2 separate regions of the Homo sapiens genome follow, and region 2 is linked to region 1. The links come from fine-mapping of genetic effects on gene expression. A gene starts in region 1. The other region holds a variant in brackets. All regions are shown on one strand. Distances are between the middles of the regions.

The links. PIP is the estimated chance that this variant, and not a neighbour inherited with it, causes the effect. A credible set is the group of variants that fine-mapping cannot tell apart.
Region 2: its variant is the best candidate, but not a certain one, in a credible set for the expression of PLP2 in cerebellar hemisphere (GTEx, PIP 0.80).

The regions. Positions count from the first base shown.
Region 1 is chrX:49,168,766-49,174,141 of GRCh38, reverse strand. PLP2 (proteolipid protein 2) reads right to left here and starts at 2,244. Exons shown (of 5, transcript NM_002668.3): 1 at 2,046-2,244; 2 at 861-1,013; 3 at 659-754. The coding sequence starts at 2,141. MAGIX (MAGI family member, X-linked) reads right to left here. Exons shown (of 6, transcript NM_024859.4): 6 at 5,368-5,376. RefSeq lists silencers at 1,548-1,747, 2,268-2,367.
Region 2 is chrX:48,336,495-48,341,870 of GRCh38, reverse strand. It overlaps the pseudogene S100A11P9. Among named protein-coding and RNA genes, the nearest start is that of SSX3, 18 kb to the left of the region's middle. The variant T/C (reference allele first, on the strand shown) is at 2,026.

The DNA of each region.
Region 1 (5,376 bases):
GGAGGCCACACTGTGGCCCTACCCGTAGGGGGCACAATTCAAGTCATACTTTTTTTTTTTTTGAGACACAGTATCACTCTGTCACCCATCTGTCACTGGGGCTGGAGTGAGTGGCATGATCTTGGCTCACTGCAACCTTTGTCTTCTGGGTTCAAGTGATTCTCCTGCCTCAGCCTCCTGAGTAGCTGGGACTATAGGCGCCCACCACCATGCCCGGCTGATTTTTGTATTTTTAGTGGAGATGGGGTTTCGCCATGTTGGCCAGGCTGGTCTTGAACTCCTGACCTCAAGTGATCTGCCTGCCTCGGCCTCAGCCTCCCAAAGTGCTGGGAATACAGGCATGAGCCACTGCGCCCGGCCCCAATTTCTACTACATTTGGGACAAAGTTCTTGCAGATGGTAGTCTAGTGCATTGACAAAGGGGCCGCCTGTTTGTACCTCTCACCAAGGTCCTTGTGTCTGACAAGGGACTTCCCTTCACAGCAAATGAAGACCTTGGGAGGCAAAACCAAGTCCTGGGCCAGACTTTCCTCCATGTCTGAGGACAAGTGTGACTTGCTGTGGGTCACACGATTTCTGCCAGAAGCAAAGGCAGAAATGGTCCCTGGCTCCTCAAACCCTTCGCTCTGTGCTTCAGAGCTGCTCCCATGGCCTTTACCCCTGCGACGATTTTGGAGTGGTTTCCTCTCTCAACAAGGACAACAATGGAGGTGATCAGGTAGAGGATTGCCGCTATGAGGGTTCGGAAGAAATCCTGTGAGGTGTAGGGAGGAGAAGAGGGAAGTCAGCAACCACAGTTCCCCGACAATCCTAACTGCCCAGACCCCTCCCTGGTCTTGCCATTGTGGACCCCTTCTCACACTCCAGGGCCAGTTGATGAATGGTATCTTGGTGTGCAGGTCACACATGTAGACAACAAAGAAAATAGCAGCAAGGATCATCTCAATCACCGACAGGGAGGAGTAGCCTGGTGTGGAGGCACTGAAGCAGATCAGGATCACCAGGCATAATATCTGGAAGGGTGACATGGGAAAGGGGACCTCAATCAGCAACCAGGGCTGAGAAGATTGGTTTAAATTGGGGGTCCCATACTAAGATGCCTACGAGGGCTGGGGAAATGACATACAATAATAGCTAAACACTTTTTATGTGCTCACTGTGTTCCAAATTCAATCATCACGACAATCTAATGCTCTGGGTACTATTATTACTCTTTCTAATTTATAGACGAGAAAACTGAGGCACAGAGAGGTTTAATGGCTTGGCCAGGGTCACCCAACAAGTAAGGAGTAGAGTTGGGTGCCTCAGTTTCCTCTTTTCCCTTCTAGGTTACGGGCAGCCTGAGGGGAGTGGCGCTGCCAGGTGTTTTGTGAGCCCCGCTGACGCCAGCTTTGTGGCCTTGACCGGGGCGGAACACGCGGTTCCCCCAGCAACCCCTTTGGGAAGCGGTGAGAGTGACACCAGAGAGGCAGGACTCCGTTAAAGGCGCCGCACCCCTTTTACAAGTGACTCAAAGGCGGCGCCCACTTTGAGAAGGGTGGAAACCCCGAAAAGCTAAGGACATCCCGCCCGGCCTCTGAAGGGCGAGGAAGAACTGGCGAAGGGCGGGGCGCTCTACACCGCGGGACTAGCGCGGGGCGGGGGGGCCCCACCCCAACAGGCCCTGCCCCTGGGCGCGCTGCCAGCCCGCCCTCCTGTGCCCAGGCCGCGCCACGCCCTGCCACAGGAGGCCCCCACTTCCCAGCACCCTGGGACCCCTTCGATGCGTCCACTGATGAGTTCACGCAGGCTGTCCCCACGTAGCCCTCCGTATGCGTTATAGGCTCCTTGCTTCACCCCGGGGACCACCAGATCTCAACAACCTTCGTCAAACCCCACCGACTCGCCCTGCGCCCCGGGTTTCGGGCCTCCACCGTGAACCCACCCACCTGCACCCCACTGCCGAGCGCCCCGGCCAAGTGCCTGCCTCACCCGGACCATCCAGTTCCGCATGGTCCAGCCACCCCATCCCGCTTTTGCCCACGCGCCTGCCCCAGAACGCTCACAATCTCAGCAAACAGGAGGATTCCCTTTCGAGTGCGCGAGAAGTTGGTGCAGGCGGCCCAGCAGCCAGGAGCCGAGAGGCGCTCAGAATCCGCCATGGCATGGGCTGGAGTCCCTGGTGCCTCGGAGGATCTGCTCACTTGCTCGTGGTTTCGAGGACGCTGTACACCCAGCTGTCTTGCCCGCCGTCTGGCCGGGAAGGGGGCCCCGGGGCGAAGGAGGGAGTGAATCACCGCGCAGAGCTGACGCGGGCGGGGCCGGAGCCGGGCCAGGTGGCTGCCGCCCCGGAAGCCCCCTCGCCCCGCCCCCCAAGGATACTCCCAGCCTGGCGCACAGCCCCCGGGGCGCCCCATCGCAGGGGTGCTTGGCAGCTCCAGGTACCAGGAGCAGTAATAGCGGGACCCTTCGCCTTTTTGGAATGCAAATGCACCCGAGACAGCTTCAGCTTAGAACCGCGGGAATCTGGCTTTGGGATGGAGTGACTCAGTTTCCTTAACTGAATAAAACGGCCGAGGCAGAGTTAAATCCGAAAGACTTGGGGCCCAGTATGTTGCCAGAATTCGGAATATTTTTGATTTCAGAAAGTTTTCCCATGCATATACTCTCAGCGGGGTTTGGAGCTGCCGCGTTACAAAAAAAAAAAAAAAGGGCCAGGCGCGGTGGCTCACGCCTGTAATCCCAACACTGGGAGGCCGAGGCGGGTGGATCACCTGAGGTCGGGAGTTCGAGACCAGCCTGACCAACATGGAGAAACACCGTCTCTACTAAAAATACAAAAATTAGCTGGGCACGGTGACGCATGCCTGTAATCCCAGCTACTCGGAAGGCTGAGGCAGGAGAATCGCTTGAACCCGGGAGGCAGAGGTTGCGGTGAGCCAAGATCATGCCATTGCACTCCAGTCTGGGCAACAAGAGCGAAACTACGTCTCAAAAACAACAACAACAACAAAAACGGTATTTCTTCAAGAAAAGGTATGAACGTTCACAATAACTGGGTAAGGATTGAAAAGTGTTCCTCGGCTGGGCGCAGTGGCTCATGCCAGTAATCCCAACACTCTGGGAGCCTCAGGTGGGAGGATCGCTTGAGCCCAAGAGTTGGAGATCAACCTCGGCAACACAGTGAGACCTCATCTCTACAAATAATTTTAAAAATTAGCCCAGGCGGCCGGACGCGGTGGCTCAAGCCTATAATCCCAGCAGTTTGGGAGGCCGAGGTGGGCAGATCACGAGGTCAGGAGTTCGAGACCAGCCTGTCCAACATGGTGAAACCCCGTCTCTACTAAAAATACACAAAAAATGAACCGGGTGTGGTGGCGCTCGCCTATAATCCCAGCTAGTCAGGAGGCTGAGGCAGGAGAATCGCTTGAACCTGGGAGGTGGAGGTTGTAGTGAGCCAAGATTGCGCCACTGCACTCCAGCCTGGGCGACAGAGCAAGACTCCGTCTCAAAAAAAAAAAAAAAAAAGAAAAAAGAAAAAAATTAGCCCAGGCATGGTGGCACGTGCCTGTAATCCCAACTACTCGGGAGGCTGAGGTGGGAGGATTGCTTGAGCCTGGGAGTTCAAGGCTGCAGTGAACCATGATCAGACCACTGCACTCCTGCCTGGGCAACAGAGCAAGACCCTGTCTCCAAAAAAGGAAAAACAAAAAGAAAGGAAGAAAGAAAATTGTTCCTCGTTAGATCAGGTCAGGTTTTGTAACCAAATAGTGCCTATCTTGTGGGAAAACCATCAGTTTCCAGAGCTTTTTGTTTTTGGATAATGGATTGTGGACAGTGGAATAAACCTCTGAGCAGTGATGAGAATAAGACCCTGCCAGTGTAAAGGCTGTGTGAGAATAGGGGTTGGTGAGCATTGAGTTGCTCAGAAATAGGGCAAGCATTGTTTCAAGTGTTAGAGCCCAAGGCCAGGAGCAGTGGCTCATGCCTGTAATCCTAGCACTTTGGGAGGCCGAGGTAGGAGAATCACTTCAGCTCAAGAGTTCGAGACCAGCCTGGGCAACGTAGTGAGAGCTTGTCTCTATTTTAAAAAAACATATTTTGTAGTAGTGTTAGAGCCCAGAGAGCCCAAGGTCTGATTCTGTGTTCTGCAATCCCAAGGAAGTCCTGGCCCTAAATGTTGGGCCTCAGTTTCCTGGTTCTGAAGAGAGGGGCCAGTCAGCACAATCGTACATGAGGAATAGGAAAGTTTATTTCTGGGGGATTGGCAAGATGAATGGATGGCTCCTGGGGTGCAAGGCTGGGTGACATTTGTAGACACTTTGTTTGTATTTATTTATTTTTTAGTAGAGACAAGGTCTCGTTATGTTGCTCAGGCTGGTCTTGAACTCCTGACCTCAAGCAATTCTCCCGCCTTGGCCTCCCAAAGTGCTGAGATTACAGGCGTGAGCCACTGCGCCTGGCTAAGTGTGTTATTTTGAGCAAGTAATTTCCCCCAGCTCAGCCTTAATTTCTGCATCTAAGACATGCATCTCGTCTCCTGGAATCAGGATCCCAGAGGTACCCTGAGGGACACACTCTCCAGACTAGAAGTTGTTTTTATTCTCATCTCATTTGAAGTGGGGGAGAATCATAACTGGATGGCCAGGAGGATTCAACCCAAGGGCCTGCCTGCTCTCTCTGCCAACACAGGGCCCCTCAAAACTAAGGAAAGAGCTCCCCTCTTTCAGCCCCGGTTGCCGGAAGAGTGAGTGAATAGTGGAAGGGATGAAACATACTTTTCCTAGTGATGAGTATGTGCTTTCCAACTCTGTGAGGACACGTCTGAATTTCTGAAACAAGATGAACCTGGTTCCACTTCAACACCTTTGCACTTGCTATTCCCCCTGCTGTCAATGCCCTTCACTCAGTGCTTCATATACCTGGCTTCTGGTCATTCAGGTTGCAGCTCAAGAGTTATGTCTTCAAAGAGGCCAGAAGCTCACCATCATCTCCCACAATGTAACCTCCTTTTGCTAGCTTCATAGCTTCATGACTCTCACTTCTCTCTGAAATTGTCTTTTTTTTTTTTTTTTTTTTTTGAGAAGGAGTTTTGCTCTTGTTGCCCAGGCTGGAGTACAATGGCACAATCTTGGCTCACCGCAACCTCCACCTCCCGGGTTCAAGCGATTCTTCTGTCTCAGCCTCCTGAGTAGCTGAGATTACAGGCATGTGCCACCACACCAGGCTAATTTTGTATTTTTAGTAGAGATGGGGTTTCTCCATATTGGTCAGACTGGTCTCGAACTCCTGACCTCAGGTGATCCGCCTGCCTTGGCCTCCCAAAGTGTTGGGATTACAGATGTAAGCCACGAGCCTGGCCTTTTTTTTTTTTTTTTTTTTTTTTTTGAGATAAGG
Region 2 (5,376 bases), 830 kb after region 1:
ATCAGAAAGTCCAGATATGTTGGTAATTGGCCTGGCTGTACGGCAGCAGCCAAGGGTGAACACTAAATGCTCCCAGGCAAGTCCTAAGTTCACCAAGTAATTGGAGTACCCATCTGTGTTAGTTAATTGCCTTTATCTGAAGGAAAAATAAAACTCATGTCTCTATGACAACCAGGTGCTTACAGCTTGGAGCGAGGCACCTAGGCTAAACTCCCCTGGTGACAGGGAGATAAGGACATCATCTTCCTCAATGTTCACATTTCAAAGAGATGGCACCAAGGCCCTGAAGAAAGACATTCCTAAGGGACGGGCATGGTGGCTCATGCCTGTAATCCCAACACTTTTGGAGGCTGAGGCTGGAGGATCACTTGAGGCCTGGAGTTCAAGTTCAAGACATTCCTGGGTTCTAGGATGGCCAGAGGCTTACGTATCAAAGGAAGAATTTACAAATACAAAATTTCTAAAGGAAATGCTCTAAGGAAAGTGAAATGGAGACAGGTTTCTTCTTCTCTCTTGGCAACAGGAAAAATTCAATTTTATGTTTAGTTACCCTTACAATTTCCCCCTTTTGTTAATTGTTTTATAGGAACACTACAATTTTCTAATTATCTCCACTGCTGTTTCTATCTTTCTCTGCATAGTTTGCAGCTACCTAGATATCCAACAAGTCCATAGTAAGATGCAAAGCTAAGCAATTATCAAGATTGTAATAGAATGATTTTTTATTTTTCGGGATGGAGTTTCGCTCTTGTTGCCCAGGCTGGAGTGCAATGGTGCGATGTCGGCTCACTGTAACCTCTGTTTCCTAAGTTCAAGCAATTCTCCTGCCTCAGCCTCCTGAGTAGCTGGGATTACAGGCATGTGCCACTACGCCCAGCTAATTTGGTATTTTTTTAGAGATGGGATTTCACCATTTTAGCCAGGCTGGTCTTCAACTCCTCACCCTAGGTGATCCACCCACCTCGGCTTCCCAAAGTGTTAGGATTACAGATGTGAGCCACCATGCCCTACCTAGAAAGAATTTTTAAATTCAGTATAATACTCACCCTGTCAGGGGGTGGGGCAACCTTTAAGCACATCATACTGGTTAATTGTGTCAAAGTCAAAATAAATTATAGAGACAAATCCCTAAATCAAATGCTGTATTTGGGAATCACAAAATTGCAATTCAGGGCATATACACGGACTAGGGTGGTCTTCATTATGTCCAACGAACAAACAGAAGTTGGAAATTTTATTAGAAAGAAAAATGTTACATATTGTTTTGAAATGAGTCTCATTGGCCCTGGAGAAGCTGGTTCATTCGCACAATCAGCTTTCACATTCCCTCTTTTGATCAACATCTTTCTTTCAAAACCTCACCGATCAGCCATCTTAAAGTGAGGCTTCATTGTCACTCCATGCCAGGATGGACCTGTGCCGGTTGTCTTTATCCCATGTCAAGGGAAAGGTAAGGGAGTCTAGATCAGGGACATGGGCCATATTTGAGCAACAAAGAGGACAGAAGGAAAAAAAATTTCAGGCAGGTTTGCCTGGAGTTCAGCATCAAGTTCCATCTTGTTAGTCCCATCTATATTAGCAATCATCTTGATGCACTGGGATAACATTATTTTCTTGGGAGAACTGGCTTAACAAATATTAGGCAACAAGTATGGAGCTCAAAGATCATAATTCTAAAATAATTAGCAATTGTTTATTTTATTTTATTTTATTTATTTTATTATTTTACTTTATTTTATTTTATTTTATTTTATTTTATTTTATTTTATTTTATTTTATTTATTTTATTTTATTGCAATGGATTCTTGCTCTGTCGCCCAGCCTGAAGTGCAGTGGCGTGATCCCGGCTCACTGCAACCTACATCTCCCGGGTTCAAGCGATTCTCCTGCCTCAGCCTCCCCAGTAGCTGGGATTACAGGTGCCCACCAACATGACTGACTTATTTTTGTCTTTTCAGTAGAGACAGGGTTTCACCATGTTGGCCAGGCTGGTCTCGAACTCCTGACCTCAAATGATCCCCCCTC[T/C]TTGGCATCCCAAAGTGCTGGGATTACAGGCGTGAGCCACCACACCCAGCTATAATTAGCAATAGTATAATAAATTTAGTTTGTACAATGGTTTTGAACCAAGATCCCAAGCCTAAGGGCCACCAGCTAAACAAATCAAAAAGCTATGGGGGAATTGAATGAGACCTCTTGTAGTCTTTGAGTAGCATTTGAGGACTGGGTTGAATTAAAGCAGAGTGCCAACTCTAAAGGGACCACTAGGTGAGGTAAAGGATTTGGGCGTCGGGTTCTGTCAAGTGAAAAATGTAGACATTCAGGGGGTAAGAGTCTCATTACGATATGAAGACTTATTCTGACGTCTTGGGAAAAGCTGTCTATAGTGTGGAAACGTCAACTTCTCATCCTGATTTGTCGTTCGAATGTCTCCGGTTATGGCATTGGACAGTTTGGTGAACTTTTTGTGTGGTCCATACATCAGGCAGCAGACTTGTTCCTTAAAATGTATGCACTTTTATCTTACAGAACTTGTAGATCAAAAATAAAATCCTATCCCCCGCCAACCCACAACCATTTGAATGGACTTCTTCCTCAGCCAGGGCTCTTTTAAAATTTAACCTGAGAGATGGTTTCAGGCCATGACAGGAAGTGGGGGTCAGGCATGCCTCATTATACCTCTCTGGCATCAACATCAACACAGACTTTCAGTCTAATAAGAAACATGTTACAACCTAGTCTCTCTGAAGCCTAGTACCTGAAGGCTTCCTCTGCAAATAAGAACTTGGGTCTCCACAATCCTTTATCTTAACCCAGGCATTCCTTTCTGTTGATCCTAGGGTTTTGTTTTGAGATGGAGTCTCTCTCTGTCGCCCAGGCTGGAATGCAATGGGCGGGATCTTGGCTCACTGCAACCTTTGTCTCCCGGGTTCAAGCAATTCTTTTGCCTCCTGTAGCTGGGACCACAGGCGTGGGCCACGACACCCAGCTAATATTTTGTCCTTTTAGTAGAAAAGGGGTTTTGCCATGTCGCTCAGCCTGGTCTTGAACTCCTGGCCTCAAGTGATCTGTCCGCCTCGGCCTCCCAAGGTGCTGGGATTCCAGGCGTGAGCCAACACGCCCGGCCTACTAATTAGGTTTCTTCTTGCTTAGGAAAACTGAGCTTTGAAAGGGTAAGTTTTTAAGTCCGTGTAACTTTCTGTATTGCTTTTGAAGTCTGTGGACTATCACTCTGGTTAAATGAGTGACTATTATTTCCACAGTGACCCATGATCCTGTTTTGCACAAGTGTTTTGAGCCTTTTAACATCTTTGACAAACTTCCCCAAAATGCAATTCTTTTTTAATTTAACTACTGCTGTTGAACAAACTAATCAAACTCTAATTTAAGTCTTTTTAACCTAAAATTGACTTTGAGATTTACCAGTGAGGCCCCTGGAGAGCCTCAAAGAATGTGTCTCTCATTAGGCTTATTTGATATGTTAGATTATATGAAAAGCAATGTCAAATAATAAAAAATACTAATCGCTGTTTACATTTACATAGATATGTTATTGACGTTAATGTTCAGAAGATCATGTAAAATTTACAGAGGTCTGATGGTCCTGGTGTGATGCTATTAGTCATGATTCTGGTTGTTATCTTAAAATGCTCTCTATAATAGAAATAACTGAATTTTCTTGTCAATTATTGAACTTTCGTCAGATTTTCATCGCTACTATTCTAAGCTTTATCATCTACAGTGCTGATTCTTCTCTAAAGGCATCCAGAATCAGATTCTTAAAAAATATTTTAACAAGTACTGTTGAATATAGATTTGTAATAACTTTCAGATCAATGAACTAAATAAATAATTTTTGAAAACTCTAATGAAAACTGATGGGTTCATGCAACTGATTATCAAGATCAAGCAGAACAAACATTAATTATATGAGGCTAAATAACCAATAATGTTTTTATGACCTTTATTTAAAACTTTATTTATTCTTGGGCTAGGTGCAGTGGCTCACACCTCTGATCCCAGCACTTTTGGAGGCCGGAACAGGAGGATCTCTTGAGTGCAGGAGTTCAAGACCAACCTGGGAAATATAGGAGACCCGGTTTCTGAAAGAAATTAAGAAAATAAAACTTTATTTGTTTTTTACCTAAATGTTTTGTTTTCCACATTTAAGAAAATTTTCTGGTGGGATGTGGTGGCTCACTTTGGAAGCCAAGGCAGGAGGATCGCTTGAGCCCGGGAGTTCAAGACCAGATTGGGCAACATGGCAAAATCCTGTCTCTAAAAAAACAAAAACAAAAATAAAAAGATTAGCTGGGCATGGTGGCATGTGCCTGTGATCCCAGCTACTTGGGAGGCCGAGGTGGGAGGATCACTTGAGTTGGGACCCAGAGGTTGCAGGGAGCCGTGTTTGCACCACTGCACTCCAGCCTGTGCAACGGGGCACAATCCTTTCTCAAAAAAATGAAAACAAAGAGAAAATTTTCTCTGTTAAACTATCTATAGTTTATAATAATTTTGTGAAGTATACTTTTGTAAACTGAGATGGAAATGTTTGCTTTTTCTTACTACTCAATTCCTCCAGAATTCAAAAACTATTTGTAAATATTCCTATGGCAATATGGTTATTCACACAGGTCCAGTAAAAACCTGCTCTTGGTGCCTCATTCAACTCCAACATGGCAAAAGTCTCCAGCCCTACAGAGAGTCCCTGATTGCTATTTTCCAGAAATAGGCTGGAAAGGATGGTTACAATAGCACTCACTCCAAGATGGAGTTCCCAAGCTTCATGAATACAGAACTGGATGCCTTCATGAAGAACCAGAGGGCCCCAGTGTCTTTGACCACATGATGAAGAAACTGGACCTCACTAGTGATGGGCAGCTAGATTTCCAAGAATTTCTGCATCTGATGGATGGCATGACTGTGGCTTACCATGACTCTTTTCTCAAGGCTGCCCATTCCAAGAAGCGGATCTGAGGATCCCCTGGGCCTGGTTTCCAAGCCAACCCCTTTCTTTCCAGCCTCACCATCACCATCTGCTCACAGCCCACACATACCCTGGGCCCAGCACAATTACCACCTCATGCAGGCCCTGCCTGCAGGTAGTAATAAAACCATTCCCTCCTCCATGCTGCTCCACCGCTCCCCCTCCCTCCCCTTCCTCCCCCTCCCTTCGCCCTTCTCCCCTGCTTTCCTCCCCTCCCCTCTCCTCTCCTCCTTTCCTCTTCTCTTCTCTCAAGTACACCCGCCGCCTCATGCAGGCCCTACCTGCAGGTAGTTATAAAACCATACTTCTTTTCTCTTTTCTATCTTTCTTTCTTTTTTTTTTTTTTTTTTTTTTTTAGCAACGGGGGTCTAGTTATGTTGCCCAGGTTGATC